Regions from separate parts of the Homo sapiens genome. Here region 2 is linked to region 1. Evidence: fine-mapped expression QTL. A gene starts in region 1. The other region holds a variant in brackets. All regions are shown on one strand. Distances are between the middles of the regions.

Region 1 (8,000 bases):
ACCTCTGCCTCCTGGGTTCAAGCAATTCTCCTGCCTCAGCCTCCTGAGTAGCTGGGATTACAGGCGCCCGGAACCACACCAGGCTAATTTTTGTGTTTTTAGTAGAGACGGGGTTTCCCCATACTGGCCAGGCTGGTCTCGAACTCCTGACCTCAAGTGAGCCGCCTGCCTCGCCCTCCTAGAGTGCTGGGATTATAGGCGTGAGCCACCGCGCCAGGCCAATTTTTGCATTTTTTTGTAGAGCAGGGATCTCACCGTGTTGCCCAGGCTGCTCTGGAACTCCTGGGCTCAAGTGATCCGCCCGCCTCAGCCTCCCAAAGTGCTGGGATGACAGGCGAGAGACACCACGTCCAGCCAAGCTTTTTTTAAGATTAAAAAAAGCTACTGGTAAAACAAGACAGAATGTTTCCATTTTTGTAAAACAAAACCAAATATATAAATAGATAGATAGGTGATAGATGATAGACAGATGGATACATGGATAGATGACAGGTAAGTCTGTAAGGTGGAGCGGGAAGGTTGAACACGGTTTTCCCTGACAGTAGGCTGGGGTGGGGAAGTATTGACTTCATCATCGTTTACTTTTTTTTAGTGTTAAGTATTGCTTCTGTCATTTAAAAAACAGACCAGGTGTGGCAGCTCAGCTTGCAATCCCAGCACTTTGGGAGGCTGAGGCCGGAGGATTGCTTGAGGCCAGTAGTTTGAGGCCACCCTGGGTGACATAGCAAGACCCCATCTCAAAAACAAATAACAAAGATTAAAAATCCTCTGACAACTGCCCTCAAGGGCCGTGGCCCTGGTGCACCCACCCGCGAGTGGGGTGCTTTGTCCTGCCCCTGCGAGTGCCCACCTGGTCCCGCTCAATGGCGACCTCCTCCATCTGCAGCAGGATGGCCTCGATGCGGTCCTTGTACATCTTGGAGTCCTTACGTAGTGCCAGGCACTGCAGCTCGAACATCTCCTTCTCCTCCATGCACTGCAGGGGGCGGCAGCTCAGCCCCCACAGGCCTGAGGCCCCCCATTCTGGCCCTTGGGGTATACTCCGGGCAGGGGCTCAGAAGCATGTGGTCAGGCCAGTTGGGATGTCGGGGGAGGCCATAGGAGTCCCCAGGCCCCTACCAGCCCTGCACTTCCAGACCGCGGCAGGACAGGGCCCTCCGGCAGGCCTCAGACACTGCTGTGCCTCAGGCACCATGAGCCCAGAGGTTGGCCTTTGCCATGGGGGGCAGGCGGGCAAGGAGAGGGCACCGTCCACTGTGCCTCCAGGAGTGGGTGAGTGGAGGCGCTGCACTGGGGTCTCCACACCCCACCTTCCAGGCACGGAGTGGGCGGAGCTCAGCCCGTCCAGCCTGGCTTGGACCCCAGGGGCCATGTCTCCCCGCCTGCCCTCCTACCCGGAGGCGTCGGGCCTCGCCCTGGCGGAGGTCCTTGCGCAGGGAGAAGATGGTGTTGGCCTGCTCCTGGTGGTCCCGCAGCGCCTGCCGCCAGTCCTCCTCCAGTACCTGGATGTAGGGGCTGCTCCTGTCCAGCTTCCCCTCCTGAAGGGGGCAAAAGGCAATGGCCTGGCTGGGAAGGCCCCCACTGCCCTGCCTGGGCTGCACCTGCCCTGCCTACGGCCCCACCTGGACGGAGGCCTCCAGCTCCTGCACCCGGGCCTGGAGCAGGGCCTTCTCCTGCTGCAGCTCCCACAGCAGCTCCTGGCTGGGCCGCTGCTCCATGGCGTGCCTGAGCTTCAGCGTGTGCTTGCGCTCCACCTTGCAGTCGTCCTCGGCCTTCATGAGGCTGTGCTTGAGCTGGTCAATCTGCAGAAGGTCCAGTGAGCCTGGCTGTCCCCTCCAGGCGGTGACCGCAGACCCGTGGGGCCACCCCCGACCGCCCCGGCCTGCAGACCCCGCCAGGCCAGGCGAGGGTGGCCTGGTTTCCCGGGGGCAGCGGGCGCACCTCCAGCTGCAGGTCACGGTTCCGCATGAGCGCGGCGCCCTTCTCCTCACTCTGGTGCGCCAGGCGCATGGCCAGGTCGTAGTTCTCCTCCTTGCAGCGCTTGAGCTCGCGGCTGCCGGCCTCGCACTCCTCCTTGAGCCTCTGCACACGCTCCTGGTGCTTGCGCAGCAGGCTGTCCTTCACCCGCAGCTCCTTGATGAAGTCATCTTTGGAGCTCAGCAGCGCGGTCAGGTCCTGCACCTTCTTCTGCAGCTTCATGACCTCAGTCATCAGCAGCTGAGTCAGGCCTGACTCCCCGGACGCGTCTGTGGGCCAGGCCAGTGTCAGATGGTGCCGTGTTCCCCGGTGGCCCAGCTCCATCACGCCCTGCGCTGTGGCAGGAGCTCAGGGCTCCTAGGGATGGGGGCCAGGCAGAGGACCCAACACCACTGCCCGCTCCCCGCCAGCGCCTCCCCTGTCGGCCCCGCCTCCCCCGTCACTCACCGATGATCATGGAGAAGACGCGGGCCGGCTCCTTGCCTGTGACCTTCTTGTACAGCTGCGGGTAGTAGAGCTCCAGGCTCTCGAGGAAGGCCACGTAGCCCTTGTGGCCGGTCCGCTGCAGGATGTCCAGGAGCACACCTGCGGGCCAGAGAGGCCTAACTGGGGGCGGGGCACAGGCGAGGCAGAGGGCTGGGGTGGGTGGGCCTGGGGGCAGGGACAGGTGGAGGCTGGCATGCAGATGAGGTGTGCCGTGGTCTGGGTCTTGGATGAGGTACCCTGCGGGTCTTGGTACTAGGCTGGGGACCAAGTGCTGCCCACCCGCCCCTTGGCTGTCTCAGGAGCCCCCGCTGCGGTGGGAGCCCCGCTGCCCCTCTTGGCAGCACCAAGCCGGCAGGAGAGGCTGGGGGACGGGCCACGTGCCAGGGTTGAGGTTGGGCCTCAGTCAGAGGCCAGGGGCAAAGCCAGGCGGGGCTCTCCTGGGGTTGAGGGTCAGGGTGGCAGAGCGTGCAGCCACCTCCGAGCTGACTCTGTGGTTGGGTTTGGGGCCTGGGGCCCGCGGGGCAACACTGACCCACTTTCCGTTTGCGGATGACCAGGTTGGGGTCGCTGAGCACCTGCTCCTCATCATCGGGGTTCAGGACCTTGCACTGCCGCAGGTAAGGTGTGATGCGTGAGGGGTCGATGACCGAGGTGAGCGTCACCCGGAAGCCCTCCAGGACGCTCCAGCACTCGTCATCGTTCTCGTAGTCCGACATGGCCTCAGCAGGCAGGCTGGGGAGTGTGGGGCAGTGCTGAGAGCGATGCCGGCTCCTGCCCCCACCCGGGCCCAGCTCCCACTCCTTCTCAGACGCTGGGCCAGGGCTCTCGTCAGGGCATCGAGGGGGATCAGCCCAGGGGCATCCAGGAGAGGTGCCCAGCTCCATGTCCCATCCCCACGCTGGATCCCCCAGGGAGGCAGCAGAGACACAGTGACCCCGCTCCCCACCAGACCAGCCGAGGGCCCCTCCGCAGCCTTTCCCAGCCCTTGCTCCTGCCCGTTGGCATCCATGTCACCCAGATACGCAGCGGGGGAGGCACAGATGGGGTCTGAGAGAGGAACTCCCCCTACAGCATGACCCCCTCTGGCCTCTGCCTCCTGGACACTCCCATCACGCCCTGGAGCCTGCAAGGTTAGCCACCTCCATGGCTGGAATGGGCAGAGGAGCTGAGGGCAACTGCCTGGCACTATGGCCAGCCCAAGCTGGGTGAGAGCAGGTTGGCCAGTGGCCCTCCCACCAGCACAGCAGCTGGGGGAGCCGGTTCTTGTGGGACTTCCTCATTCCCCTGACCGACGCCTGCTCACATCCCTGGCTGTGCCCTCCCTCCTCCACGGCCGGCTGCTGATGATGCAAGAGTGGCCACCCAGCCCTGCTGCAGCTGCGGGGTCGCTGCACTGGCCGGGAAGAGCTGCCCACAGGAGCGTGTCTCTGTCACCCCCTGCCGGCCCCGCAACCCTGGGAGGGGCTGTCAGTGTTGCCCTTGGCTGGCCAGGAGTGCTGCTGCGGTGTTTTCTCCAGGTTGAGGTGCCGGGCACCAGTGAATCCCTGGACTCTTCTCCTGCCCCAGATGAGGCCCGGCCCCCATCCCAGTGGCTGCAACAGAACTACCCATGTTGGGACCAGCCACTGCTGTCCCTTTCTGCCAGCATGGTGGGGGCCTCAGCCGCTGAAAGCCACTCCCTCTGAGACTGGGACTGCGGCAAGGCTGGGAGCAGCCACGTGGTCCTCAGACAGCCTCCAGCCCCGCTGGGAAACGCTGGTTTCCAGCCCAGAGGAGCTGGGTCACTGCTCCTGGAGACATAGTTGCCCCAGGCTTGGTCTTTTGAGGCATTTCTCAACTTCCCGCTGCACTTTGTCACCCCATTCAGGACAGTTTTGACAGACAAGGGACTGAATAAAAACACTGGCCACACGGTAGACAGTCCTGGGAACACTGGGCCCCTTTCCTGCTTCCCCAGCTTGAAATGCAGGGTCCCATCTGCCACCGTAATTCCACTGAAATGAACACATCTCCGCCCAGGGGCCGTGAAAGGGACGGGGCCGCATGGCGGAGGCTGCCTGGCTGCCTGTGGGAAGCCTCAGGCTGCTCTGGGGGATCAGTGCCAGGATCCTGAACTAGGCCAACGCCAACCTTCCTGGCCACCTTTCAGAAAGCACCAGACCCACCCACCTGAGGGTCTTCCAGGAGCCACCTGCACTGCAGACACACCAGGAGCCTGGGCCGCGGAGCCTCTGGGAGATGCTGCCCGGGGCTGCAGGGAGGGAGGAGCACGCCGGACGCCTGTGCACTTCCTGATGGGTTCTGCTTAACTCCACAGTCCCGCCAGTCCTCCCACAGGGGGACAGTCCCTGGTGACCTGCTTTCTGATTCGCCCAGCCCAGGAGGCCCCAAGAGGCAGACGGAAGTGGAAGTCCGCTGCCCTCCAGAGGAAAGCTGCTCCCAGCCCTCCCAGCCTGGCCGGGGGCTGGGGGTCCTGGGGATGCCCCAGAGGCCCAGCCCTGGCACCTGGCAAGTAGAAGAGACAGCAGAGACCCCCAGGGGGCTGGACAAGGCCAGCCCGCACCCAGCCACTTTGACCTGGTCACAGGCTTCTGGAGACTTCTTCAGTAAGGCATGCTTTGCTCTGTGCGAACACCCTCGCCCTCGCCAGCATCTCAGGACAGCGGGGCAGGGCATGTGCAGGGGGGCACACAGCCACACGGCATGGCCAGCACACGCCTTGGTCACAGAAGGGCTGCAGCCCACCTTATGGAGCCCAGGAGGCCACAGCAGCCTGCCAGGGGCCATGGCATCGGCCACCACCCAGCTGCACACGGGGGAGAAACGTCCCTTCCAGAAGTGTCGTTATCCTCGTTATCCCCATCATGAGGCATCCCTGCTCTCCACCAGGATGCATGTGAGGACTGAGGCCACTCTCGGGGTCCCCCAAACCAGCTTCAGAAGAGCCGGTGACAGCAGGGCACAGCTCGGCCCCCATCCAGGGACAACGGACAGCAGAGTCTGCCCTGAACTGTGCACTTCAGCGTGTGGGCTGCCAGAGCCTCATCCCTGCAGGCTTGGGAACCCCCAGGCCCCGCCTCACCCGGTAAAGCTGGTTGAACTGAGTTGCCACCCAACAGGTTCGAGAAGGGGCCGCCAGGCTGGAAGGCAAGGAAGCTGGTGTGGAGCTTGCCTAACCGTTCTCAGCCTCCAGCCCTCAGGCCTCTGTGCGGACAACGTCTGACATCACACATTAAGGAGCGGACAGTTAGGGGTCCTCCTGGGCTCTCGGGAATGCCACATTCCAGGGGGCCGTGCCCCTGCTGGACCCCTCACCATCAACATGAGCGAGTGTGCAGGCCGGGGCCATCCTGGGCCCTGCCAGGGAGCGAACCGGAGCTGGCACCAGGCCCTCATGACCCAGTGTTTCCCCAGCGTTTAAAACGCGGACCTTAGTGACTTCCCTGTGGTGTGTGTCCTTAGGAGTGAACACACATACCATGTTCTCTAACCATATCGGAAGCTAAAAATCGGTAACAGATATCGGCAAAATCTCTAAATATTTGGAAATTAAATAATATACCGCTAAATAACCCACAGATCAGAGTGGCCCCCAGACTAGGCACCAGACTAGAGAACCAGGCACAGCAACACATACTCAGGAGTGAGGTCGGCCATGGGACCGTCCCGTCTGCCAGGTGCCCAGGGCTGAGGCCCCACAGTGGCTCCAGTGAAGGATCGAAGCCCAGATAGCCAAGGGCCTGGGGGCGCTGCTGCCACAGAGACAAAGGAAAGGGAGCTAGGGGACAGACGGAGAAGATGGGGGCTAGTCTTATGCCAATAAAGGCCCATGCAAAAGGAACAGTGGAGGGTGGGGGCTGCCGCCGTGTCGGGGTAGCCAGGTCATCTGTTCCAGGGAACCCCCTGGGTCAGCCAGGGCAGCGCGAGGGCTGGCAGCCATCTGGGGAGGGTGCCGGCTAGCCTGAAGGACAAAGCCACAGATGCTTTCCAGGAAATGGGCGAAAGAAAGCCTGCTTCTCTGACAGGAGGGCAGCCGGGGTACGGGAGGCCTTCCAGGACCCCAGCTCTGGGCCCCCAGCACCCTGCTTGTTCCCGAACTGCCTGCACTAGGGTGGCTCAGCCACTAGGCAGCAGCCTGACCCCAGCCAGGTGGGGGGTCCCTGTACACTGCCCGGTACCTCAGGACAACAAAACCACAACAGCCTGTGTCCAGCTCCACAATTAAAAACAGAACTTTATTCCTCCAAGTGTTCAGGTGTGCACTTGGGGAACAGCCATGCTCCATGCCACACAGTCAGTCGGCAGGCCCGCCTCTGTTCACTGCGGACCTGGTCAGTCAGCGGCCAGCAGATACCTGGCCTCTGGCTGCCTCTCTTGCAGGCTGGGGGTGGGCTGTCTCTCGTCAGCAGGGCCACGGGCTTCTGAGAAAGTGCTTGTCCTGGAACACAGGAACACCAGGTGGGGGGTGCCCTTGACCCCAGCCAGACCCCAAGCAGGGCTGGGACAGACAAACAGGAACCAAGACCACCCCAGCGCCGGCCACGCCCAGTCTGCTTGGTAAACCTGACCCACATGCGCCAAGGGCCAGGCCAGGGCACCAGGGCTCCAGCAGTGAAGAGCCAGCCTGGTGGCTGCGGTTGGGGATGGTGATCGTTTTACAAGCTGGGAGACGACGCAGCAATGCACGGGAACAGGGCACCACCAGAGCACAGCGGCCAGGGAGGAGCCCAGACCCCAAAGGCAGGGAATGAGCCTATGGTCAGGGGCACAGTGGTGCCAAGGCCCGAGGCATGGGTGGCCAGCAGGAAGGATGTGGGTTAAATGCTTCTCCCCCTGGAGGGCCTCCATGACCCTGGACCTGCCCACCTAACCCAGCACACCTGCTGTGAGCGCCAAAGAGCCGAGCAGAGGCCAAGGCCCCCTGCCATCTGGACACCACTCTGTCCCCTGGGTTGTAGGGCAGTGGCCTCCCCACTCAGGACTCACCTGCTGCTCACACCAGCCGCCTCCGCTTCCGGGTGTGCCTGGCATGCCGGGTTCTGAGCACGTCCAGGTCGTCAGGGTCATTAGAAGTATCCAGGCAGGAGGAAGCAGAGCATTTACCAGAGTCTGGGGCTCCCTGAAAGAAAATCCAGGCAGTGGGGACAAGAGTGACACCCCCGAGCCATGATGGACGGGGAAGGGACGGGAGTGAGGAGGGGCCCTGTGGGTGAGTGTCCCACTTGGGACAGGGCACCCTCAGCTCAGGCGGGAGCTGCTCCAGGCACTCCTGGGGCCACACGTGACTGTGCACTCCCTCCCTCGGGGGCTCTGACCCCATCCAAGCCATCCCTCTGGTGGGCCTCCCACTCCCCCATGGGACAGCCATCACACCCAGGCAGGGCAGGAGGCTGTACATGGATGGGGCACAGAGGGCCTCTTCCCCTGGCTGGCCGGGGTCCTCCCCAACTCTTGGACATTGCTTCCTCCCACACTTCAGCCCAGGGACTTGCGAGACACAACCCTGGGGAGAGATGGAAGGCCCTCTGCCACACTCC
Region 2 (8,512 bases), 100 kb after region 1:
TCTATCTGTGAGACAGTCTCTCTCAGATCTCACAAGGAGCAAGTGCAGCTAAGGCCCTGGAAGGCGCAGCCTAGCGCGGTGGCCAGGACCACGCCCACCCCTCGCAGGGCTCTGCGCACCTCCCTGAGTGGAGATGAAAATCAACAACAGCCTCCTCTGCTCTAGGGCCCAGGAGGACTCTGACCTGGCTTAAAGGGCTACTCAGCTGAAGCCACAGTGCCACAGGTCTTTCCAAACCCCTCTTCTGTAATGGCAAACAGAGGAATGGCTGGCCTTCAAGCAGAGGCGGCAATGTCAAGGAGAAACATAGGCTGGCCGGGCGCAGTGGCTAATGCCTGTAATCCTAGCACTTTGGGAGACCAGGGCAGGAGGATCCCTTGAGGCCAGGAGTTCGAGACCAGCCTGGCCAACATAGTGAGACCCTCGTCTCTACAAAAAAAAAAATGAACAAAATTAGCTGGGTTTGATGGGGCATGTCTGTAGTCCCAGCTCCTCGGGAGGTTGAAGTGGGAAGATTGCTTGGGCTCAGGAGGTCAAGGCTGCAGTGAGCCAAGATGGCACCATTGCACTCCAGCTTGGACAACAGAGTGAGACCTGCCTTAAAAGAAAAAAAAAGAAGAGGAAACACAGGCTTTCAAGCCCTGCTTTCTGTAGCCAGCCTGACAGGTCTAAGAATTAAGTCACCTCTGTGACCAGTCCTCCCAGGCCTCCGGAGACCGGTGAAAAGCTGCCGTGTCTCTGGGGAGCCTGAACACCCCATTAGCAAATGGCCGGACCAACAGACGTGCCCCGTCAAGAGGGGCTCACAGACAAGTCAGAGGCTGCTTCTCTGCAGCCCTGAGCAGGGTCTGGCCCCAGTAGGGGTGGCGCCAAATGCTAACTGACCAGCACAGCTAATGACCACCTGGGGCAGTGTTTAATTTCATTTAAAAACACACCCTACAATTTGTCCATACCAAGAAAATGTCAACATATGTTAGATAAGTTTGTACAATTCTTCAGAAATACAGAACTTTTTGAGTCACTAAGTTATCCCCATAGCAAGCAACACAGACATGGGTCTGAGTAGGACAGAGAGGCAGCCAGGGTGGGCGCGGCCGCACCTGGGAGGTGGCCGTTCCGAGGAGTGGCTGGCTCGGGAGCTGGGCCGCTCGGGCTCGGGATAGCGGTAGTTCTGGGCGTAAGCAGACGCAGCACCATCATAGGGCCTGTATCGAGGCTCATAGAGGCTGTAGACATCCTGTGGGAGGAAGCATTTGGGCAGGATTAGACACCAATCAAGAGCAAGCTCGTCCAACAGCCAGCCTGAGCTGGAAACATTGCAGAGGGCGGGCAGCATTAGATACCTACCAAGAGCAAGCTCGTCCAACAACCAGCCTGAGCTAGAAACATCGCAGATGGCTGCTCTCCAGCAGGACTGAGCGTGGCCCTTCCCTCATACACAACCACACAGACCTCCAAAGCACAGCCACACCCACAGGCAGCAGGGTGTCCTAAGACCCACAGCCCTGGCCCTGTTCAGGAGACCTCTGGATGGACCCAGGGCACCAGCATGTCAGCAGACAACCCCAGGGGGCTGTGGCGACTTCTGGAAGGGGCTGTTAGGTTTCTGCTTCCTGATAAGTCCAGTGTGGAGATGCCATGATTTGAACAACCCCTGCGTCCCGCTTCAGATGCCACCTCAGTTAAGTCAGAGAACCAGGGTCCCAGTGAACAGAGCCCCAGCCAGGAGCAGCCTCTAAAAGCGGACCGTGCTTTATTCTCGGGAGGCTTCAGCCCCATCACCAACCAATTCGTGGCCACAGAATTGTTCCCAACGGGGCCCATGTGGACACATGAGGATCTGAAGACATGCAGTGCCCCGGACACACGCCAGAATTCACGCTTAAGCGCCTCAAAGCCTCAAGGCCTCGACGCTGCCGCTGCCTGGCAGGAAATGTGAAATCACAGCAAAACAGACTCATCCTTGGCCACCCGGACACCACAGCAAGAGGCACGGCGGGAGGAGTGCACTCCTGCGGAGGGAGGTGGCTCGCAGCAGGAGGACCGGACAAAGGACCCGAAGTGAGGCCACGGCTTCCCGTCGCTCTGCACCAGCCCCACCCCAGGGCTCCCAGCAGAGCTGAATGTCCTTGTATGGAAATAAAAAGTGCCTGGGCTCCTTCTGGAACCTACACAGGTCTGAGGGGTCAGGTGTGCACCTGGTCACACGCACACAAACCATGATGCTCGAGGCCCATGGGGGAGGCCCAGCCCCATTCCCCGGGGCAGTACCCAGCAAGCCACGGCAGCCTTGCTCCTCGGGGCGGGCCCCCTTCTGACTGCAAGGCCTTCCTGTGTGGCCCCAAGTCTGGTTCCAACTGGCCTTACATACCGCAAGACCATGGTTTTCCAATTCCCTATCACACAATCCTTCTACCTGGGGTGACACTGAATCGGTGAACCCAATCGGTGTATGTTGAACTGGGTTAGAGGGTAGGAAAAGCAGATAATGATCAAATGTGTACACAGACACTTTTCGAACGACTGCAGGATTATGCGGAACCTAACTCAAATGTCACTCATGAGCTGGTGTCCCTGTGAAAAAGAGGCACAGAAGAATCTTCTGCACGAGCACAGCCGGTCCCCGAGCCGCTGCCCGCACCACCACGTGCTGACAGCAGCTTGCGGGACTCCGCCTCGCTTAGCTGATGCGTGTGGCTCATGCTCCAAAACTATTTTCTCTCCATGTTTTTATTCTCCAGGGGCATTTAAAGGACTATGGTTATACCCAATGCTTCTGACGTAAGCTTCCAGAGGCTAGCCCAGCTTCCCAAGGCATGCAAGACAGAACTTTTCTGCAGACAGCCAGCAGGAGCAGGGGTGACAGCAAATGGAGGGCTCTTTTTGTCACATAAGCTGGGGAGGCTGGTTCAAATCCTAAGCAAGTATTATAAGCAATTCAAGATGCTAACGCGTGGTGTGAACTAAGGGTGGCCTGTGCTTGGGAGAGTAGGTTCTGGAGCCGGGAGCCCTGTCCTCAGGAAGCGTTACTGGAATACTGTTCTCACGCCTGCGGGACTGTGGGTGACCCCGGAACCAAGCGAACAAACACTACTAAGGAATACACTGTGAGTGAGACTCAACTGGTCAAAGCACAGACAGAAAAGTGGGTTACACATACGACTCGACTCTTACCTGGTAATAGAGGGAGGCTGCGCCAGGCTCCGGTGGGTACGGCAAAGAGTACTGAGGCTGGTAGGCATCGTACAAAGGCCGGTAGTAGTAGTAGGCGGCCAGGTCCTGAGGCGGTGGGCCGGGGGCAAGTGCAGGCACTGGCTGTGGCCACGGCTGCTCTGACGGCACAGCTGCCTGGCCGGAGCCACTGGACACCAGAGACACGCTAGAGGACTGAGGAGGCCGAGGGGGCAGCTGCTGACCCGCGTCGACCAGAACCAGACTTGCTGGTGACTGTGCTGAGTTCTGGGCCTGTCCCTGTGCGGGCAGACTTTCTGGATTTGACAGCTCCGAAAACATGGCTTTGGGTAGTTGTGGGGGAGAAGCCTGTTGCTGGGGTGGCACCAGCTCCTGCTGGGCTCTTTCGAGGCCAGGCTGGCCCTGGGCATCTTTCGTGACCTGCTGATAAAAACGGTCAAGGTTAGGCGCCCCAGGCCCAGATTGTCTGGGATGACTGGCAACACTTTGCTGAGAAGCGAGGCTGTCAGAATGGGACGGGTTGTACACGTTTACAGGATTTTCCAAAGTCCTGCTTAAGGTAAAGTCTAGGGCTCCGTAAGTGTCTTCCTGATGACTGGAATGGTTTGCCTTATTACCATCAGGCACCAGGGTGCCGTGTGCAGGTGGAACTAACACCACACTTGTGCTTCCAGCAGGGCTATTAGCAAATCC[G/A]GGAAGAGCACTTCCTGCCTTACGATCCTTTTGACTTTCTGGAACCAAGTTCTCTGGAACTGGCTGGGATGGTGGTTGAACCAGCAAATTAGCAGGCTGATTAGAAACCATTTCGGAAGCACCAGAACCTTGTGGAAAATTACTTTGGGCAACACTGCTAGGCAGAGACAAGCTAAGGACAGAGCTGGTTGGAATCCCAGACAAAGAAGTGTTCTCCCCAGAATCACCACCGAGAGCCCAACTGCTGACTGCAGGTCTATCCCCCACCAAAGCCTCTCTCCAGGACTGATTCTTCTCATGAGAGTTCGATAAGGACACAGAAAAGTTAATGGGCTGAGCCAGATTATAGCTGTGATCAGGCTGAGCAATCAAGACTGGAGGATTCTGCAGAGACTCAGTGGGCGGTGAGGATAATAAACTTGCATAACCAGAACTCGCCTGGGACTGAAGGGCCTCCTCCTCTCCCATTTTGGGAGGATTCTCAAGGTTCTCAGAAGCACCAATGCCACCTCGGCTCTGCACCGGGGCCGCCGAGCTTGGGTTCCGTGACTGCTGCCCGGACATCGCCTCTTCTGGAGGCTGAACAACAGGTGGCTGAGGTTTTGCACACACATAAAGCGCCGGGGCTGCAGGGGCCAGAAGGACGTTGCCTCCAAAATCTGGCAGCTCACTTTGCGCCCACAGAGTCGTTGCTGGGCTCTCACACTTCACGGGCCCCTGGGTCCTGGCTGAAGGCCTCTTCTCGGGTGCTGGATACACAGTATCCAAGGGCGGTGCCCCTGCGTGCGGAAGCATGTGCACAGCTTCCGTGGTGGAGTTAAGAGGCAGGGGACAGACCTGGGGTGCACAGAGGGTCTCCATGTTGTCTGGTGGCTGCTCCAGGTTGCCAGGGGAAGCATCGGGCAGGGCGGCAGCTGGTCTGCACTGCTTCTGGCGGACACAGGTCTCCCTTACTTCACCAACCACGTTGGCGCGATCTGCCTCAAATGGTTTTACCCCAACTAAGTGAGATTTTACCGGTTCGAAAGAACTATTTGCACTTGTCTGAAATATTCCTGTAGGTTTCGGGGGGCTCGGGGTTGAGGGCTGGGACACGCTGCCACGGTAATTCTGGCTCACAGTGGTCTCGTCTGTTTCACCTCCTACGGGAGAAGAATCGATTTGCTTAAAAAAACTACCTGAAGCTTCATCCTCGGGTTTTCCAACTTCTTGCTGAATGAATGTGCCAACCAGCTCCTGGGGCCTGGCTGAGCCTGAGAGCCTTCCGTGGCTTCTGCTGCTATAGCTGGATGACACGCTGTCAGGGTGCACTGTATGCAGTGTGGCATCAGGGGCTCCGGTGTGGCACACAGCACCATGCCTGGGCACAGCTGGCCCAGGAAGGGGCCCATATCTGAACTGGTCACTCGGGGAGGAAGGGTCCAAATTGAGGGGCTCACTTGGCAGAACTTCTTGATTCTGAACAAATTCTAAGTTCTCAACATTCTCATACTGCGAGCCGCTGGCATCCGGCACCCCTGTGCTCGCTGTGTCACCCCACACATCACCAGCAGCCTCATTGCTGGGGCCTGGGAGAAGGGCCTGGCAGAGGCTGCCTGCCCCCACGTGTGTAGGTGCGGGCGGACGGCCTAGCCCAGGGCTGGAGCAGAAATCGTCAAAGTCCGCTTGACCAGATAAGCCTGCTTTTTCAGATGAGAGATTCTCCTCATTTTCTGTCTCTCCCCCTTGGAAAAACATCGCCAGAGCTCCTGAAGCTCCTGAGTCTGCTTCTAGCGGGGCACAGCCAGACCCGGCCCCAGCCCCCAGTGGGTGGTGCGTACGGTTTTCTGGGCTATCTCCCCGGGCGAGGGGGTTCACAAGAGCAGAGGCGGGCCGGTGCTCATTCTTCACTCCTGGATTCTGCCTGAGCTCTGGGCTTGCCCAGTGATTCACAATTCTGGGATTTTGCCTGAATGTACTTTCAGGATCAGAGTTATTGGCCAGGTGGCTTCCACTTTGCAAGTGGCTCACCTCGTCTCTTCCGTCACTGGGCAAGGCTGCTGGGGGAGCCACCAGAGGGCTGTGTTGCTCATGACCAGGGCCCTGATGTAGGATGGACGGGGTGGGGAAATGAGGAACGCTGGTGGCACAGGGCACCCCGCTGGGAACAGGTCCTTCAGGGCAGGGTGAACGATGTTGCCCCGAGGGCTGTGGGCCTCCCTGCACTGGCCCCCACTGTCCTGGCATCTGCAGACCAGGCTGAGGGAGGGAAGGGGATGCTGCTGGGGTGACCACACCGTCATGTGGGTTTTGCCTGCTCAGGGGTCGGTCGAGCCCAGGCATGTTCCCATGAGGGTGGCCCCCATGAGACGTTTCAGGATCCACTCCTGGAATGTAGTGAGGAAGATATGGCAGAGTCTGAACTTCAGGCTCTGAACTGGGACCGACCTCTGCACTCCTGTTCATCTCAGGCCCAGGAGGTGCTGAAGGTGTCAATGCACCAGAAAACGGACTGGCATGTGCTCTGGGCTGTGTCAGAGGTCCAGGCAGGGGCTCACAGGGTCCCTGAGAGCTATCTCTGGCATGTGTGTGAGGAACAAGCAAACCGGGGTGCTGAGAAAACCCTGCGGGGGCTGGGCCTTGCAAGACAGGTGGACTGCTTTTGGACGAACTGCCCAGTGGTGTACTTTGGAGCGCCTGTCTACTAAAAGCAAATGGATCCGTGACCGGCTGCAACGGGCAAGTTGTCGGAGCCACTGCTGCATTATTATTAGCCCGTCTCCTGTAAGGGCTGCTAGCCCAGAACACGCTCCGAGGATTCCCGGCTGGAGGTGGCCCAGCCATGCCAGACGGGACCGTCTGGGGCGGTGGCTGCATGACTGAACCCTTGCACAAGTCGATGCTGCTTACAGAAGGAAGCAGGATATAGCTGTTCCTTAATTGGAGCTGGAAAAGAAAAAGAGAAAATCAGCATAAAATCCATATATTCAAAGTCCTAGCTGCAATCAGGAAAACTAAGGAAAAAGAGAAACATTGAACATGATTTTATGTCACTTAAATCCCAAGGACTCTCTCTCCCCTACACCCCACCCCAGCAGAGAACACCTGTCCCTGAGGAACTGTTCTGGGGGGCAGGGGACAGAGTGAGAACCCTGGATGGCCTGGCTGCGAGCTGATGGAGTATGTCTAGATGGCCACTCCCTCCCCTGGGATCCTCTACTCACAGGGCCCATTGCTGCCGCAGACCCGCGCCACAACAACAGGGACAGTGCGGAACCTGACCACTGCTGTGATATGCTACCAGACCCACAGATACTCAATGTTTTCCTGTAAACCATCCCTAGATCCAGGAAGAGCCAACTCTTCTATTAAGAAAGAAAAACTGGCCAGATATGGTGGCTTACGCCTGTACTCCCAACACTTTAAGAGGCCAAGGCGGGAGGACCACTTGAGCCCAGGAATTCGAGGCCAGCCTGAGCAACAGGGGGATCTCGTTTCTACAAAAAATACAAAAATCAGCCAGGCATGGTGGTGCACACCTGTAGTCCCAACTACTCAGGAGGCTGAGGCAGGAGGATTGCGTCAGCCTGGGAGGTTGAGGCTGTCGTGAGCTATGACAGCACCACTACCCTTCAGCCTGGGTGACACAGTGAGTCCCTAGCTCAAAAAAAAAAAAAAAAAAGGAAAACTTTATATCATACTTTCCATACATGTTAATTTTAAATTTCAAAAGGGATACAAAAGTTTAAAATTCATTCTTCCATTTTCTTTGATGAAAGAGCATTATGAAGTATAGTTATAAAAGCTGCAAAATAGGCTGGGTGCAGTGGCTCATGCCTGTAATCCCAGCACTTTGGGAGGTCAAGGTGGAAGGACTGCCAGAGCCCAGGAGGTCGAGACCAGCCTGGGCAACATAGCAAGACCTTGTCTCTACAAAAGAAGAAAGTTAGCCAGACATGGTGGCACACACCTGTAGTCCCAGGGACTCAGGGGGTTAAGGAAGGAAGATCACTTGTGTCCATGAGTTCGAGGCTGCAGTGAGCTATGATTATACCACCGCGGTCCAGCCTGGGCAACAGAGCAAGACGGTCTCTATTTTAAAAAAATAAATAAATAAAAAGTGACACAATCATTTTTTTAAAAAGCACTGCAAAATAAATATATTCATCTAAATGCCTTTTATCACACCTCTTCATAGGTCTCCGTTTTTGTACTGTGACTGGCTTAAGGTCTGAAAGGACCACCAGCAAGATGTTACCTTTGAACTGGAGCCGTAACTGTGCCTGGAATGGAAACTCCCAGGAAACTTAAAGCAGCTTTACAAGGCACAGACTGGATTCCAACACTTTCAACAACAGGCAGAATTGCCAAGAAACCTCTTACAGAAAAGAAAGGGGCAAAAACCTCCATCAGTTTTTAAATAAAACATAGTAGATACAAACTTGAATAGTTAACCTGGCCTCTTAAGGCAAAAATTCAAGGACTATATCTTTAGGAAAGTTCTTTTCTTTCTATCAGTCTTTCTTCTTGTCAGCACCACCCTCATGAACAAACAGATAAGTTTAGCCAATCAAAGGAAAAATTAAACCAAAGGGGAGGACTCTGTAGTTTAATCCACACATTTTTTTTTTTGAGACGGAGTCTT

Direction of the effects. Alleles are on the strand shown, and positions count from the first base shown. SD is a standard deviation of normalised expression in the study named.
As copies of G replace A in region 2, the expression in subcutaneous fat of the gene that starts at base 4,770 in region 1 goes down (moderate effect, 0.73 SD a copy in TwinsUK).

What was found. PIP is the estimated chance that this variant, and not a neighbour inherited with it, causes the effect.
Region 2: its variant is the best candidate, but not a certain one, in a credible set for the expression of CARD9 in subcutaneous fat (TwinsUK, PIP 0.83).

Annotation. Positions count from the first base shown.
Region 1 is chr9:136,368,900-136,376,899 of GRCh38, forward strand. CARD9 (caspase recruitment domain family member 9) reads right to left here and starts at 4,770. Exons shown (of 13, transcript NM_052813.5): 1 at 4,633-4,770; 2 at 2,996-3,195; 3 at 2,425-2,562; 4 at 1,942-2,246; 5 at 1,623-1,802; 6 at 1,395-1,538; 7 at 851-976. The coding sequence starts at 3,179. SNAPC4 (small nuclear RNA activating complex polypeptide 4) reads right to left here. Exons shown (of 24, transcript NM_003086.4): 23 at 7,450-7,582; 24 at 6,672-6,901. The coding sequence ends at 7,457. LOC124902309 (a long non-coding RNA gene) reads left to right here. Exons shown (of 2, transcript XR_007061863.1): 2 at 1-398. RefSeq lists enhancers at 4,638-4,932, 4,952-5,665.
Region 2 is chr9:136,470,872-136,479,383 of GRCh38, forward strand. SEC16A (SEC16 homolog A, endoplasmic reticulum export factor) reads right to left here. Exons shown (of 32, transcript NM_014866.2): 2 at 7,838-7,959; 3 at 3,178-6,813; 4 at 1,104-1,240. The coding sequence starts at 6,744. Among named protein-coding and RNA genes, the nearest start is that of SEC16A, 7.9 kb to the right of the region's middle. The variant G/A (reference allele first, on the strand shown) is at 3,889.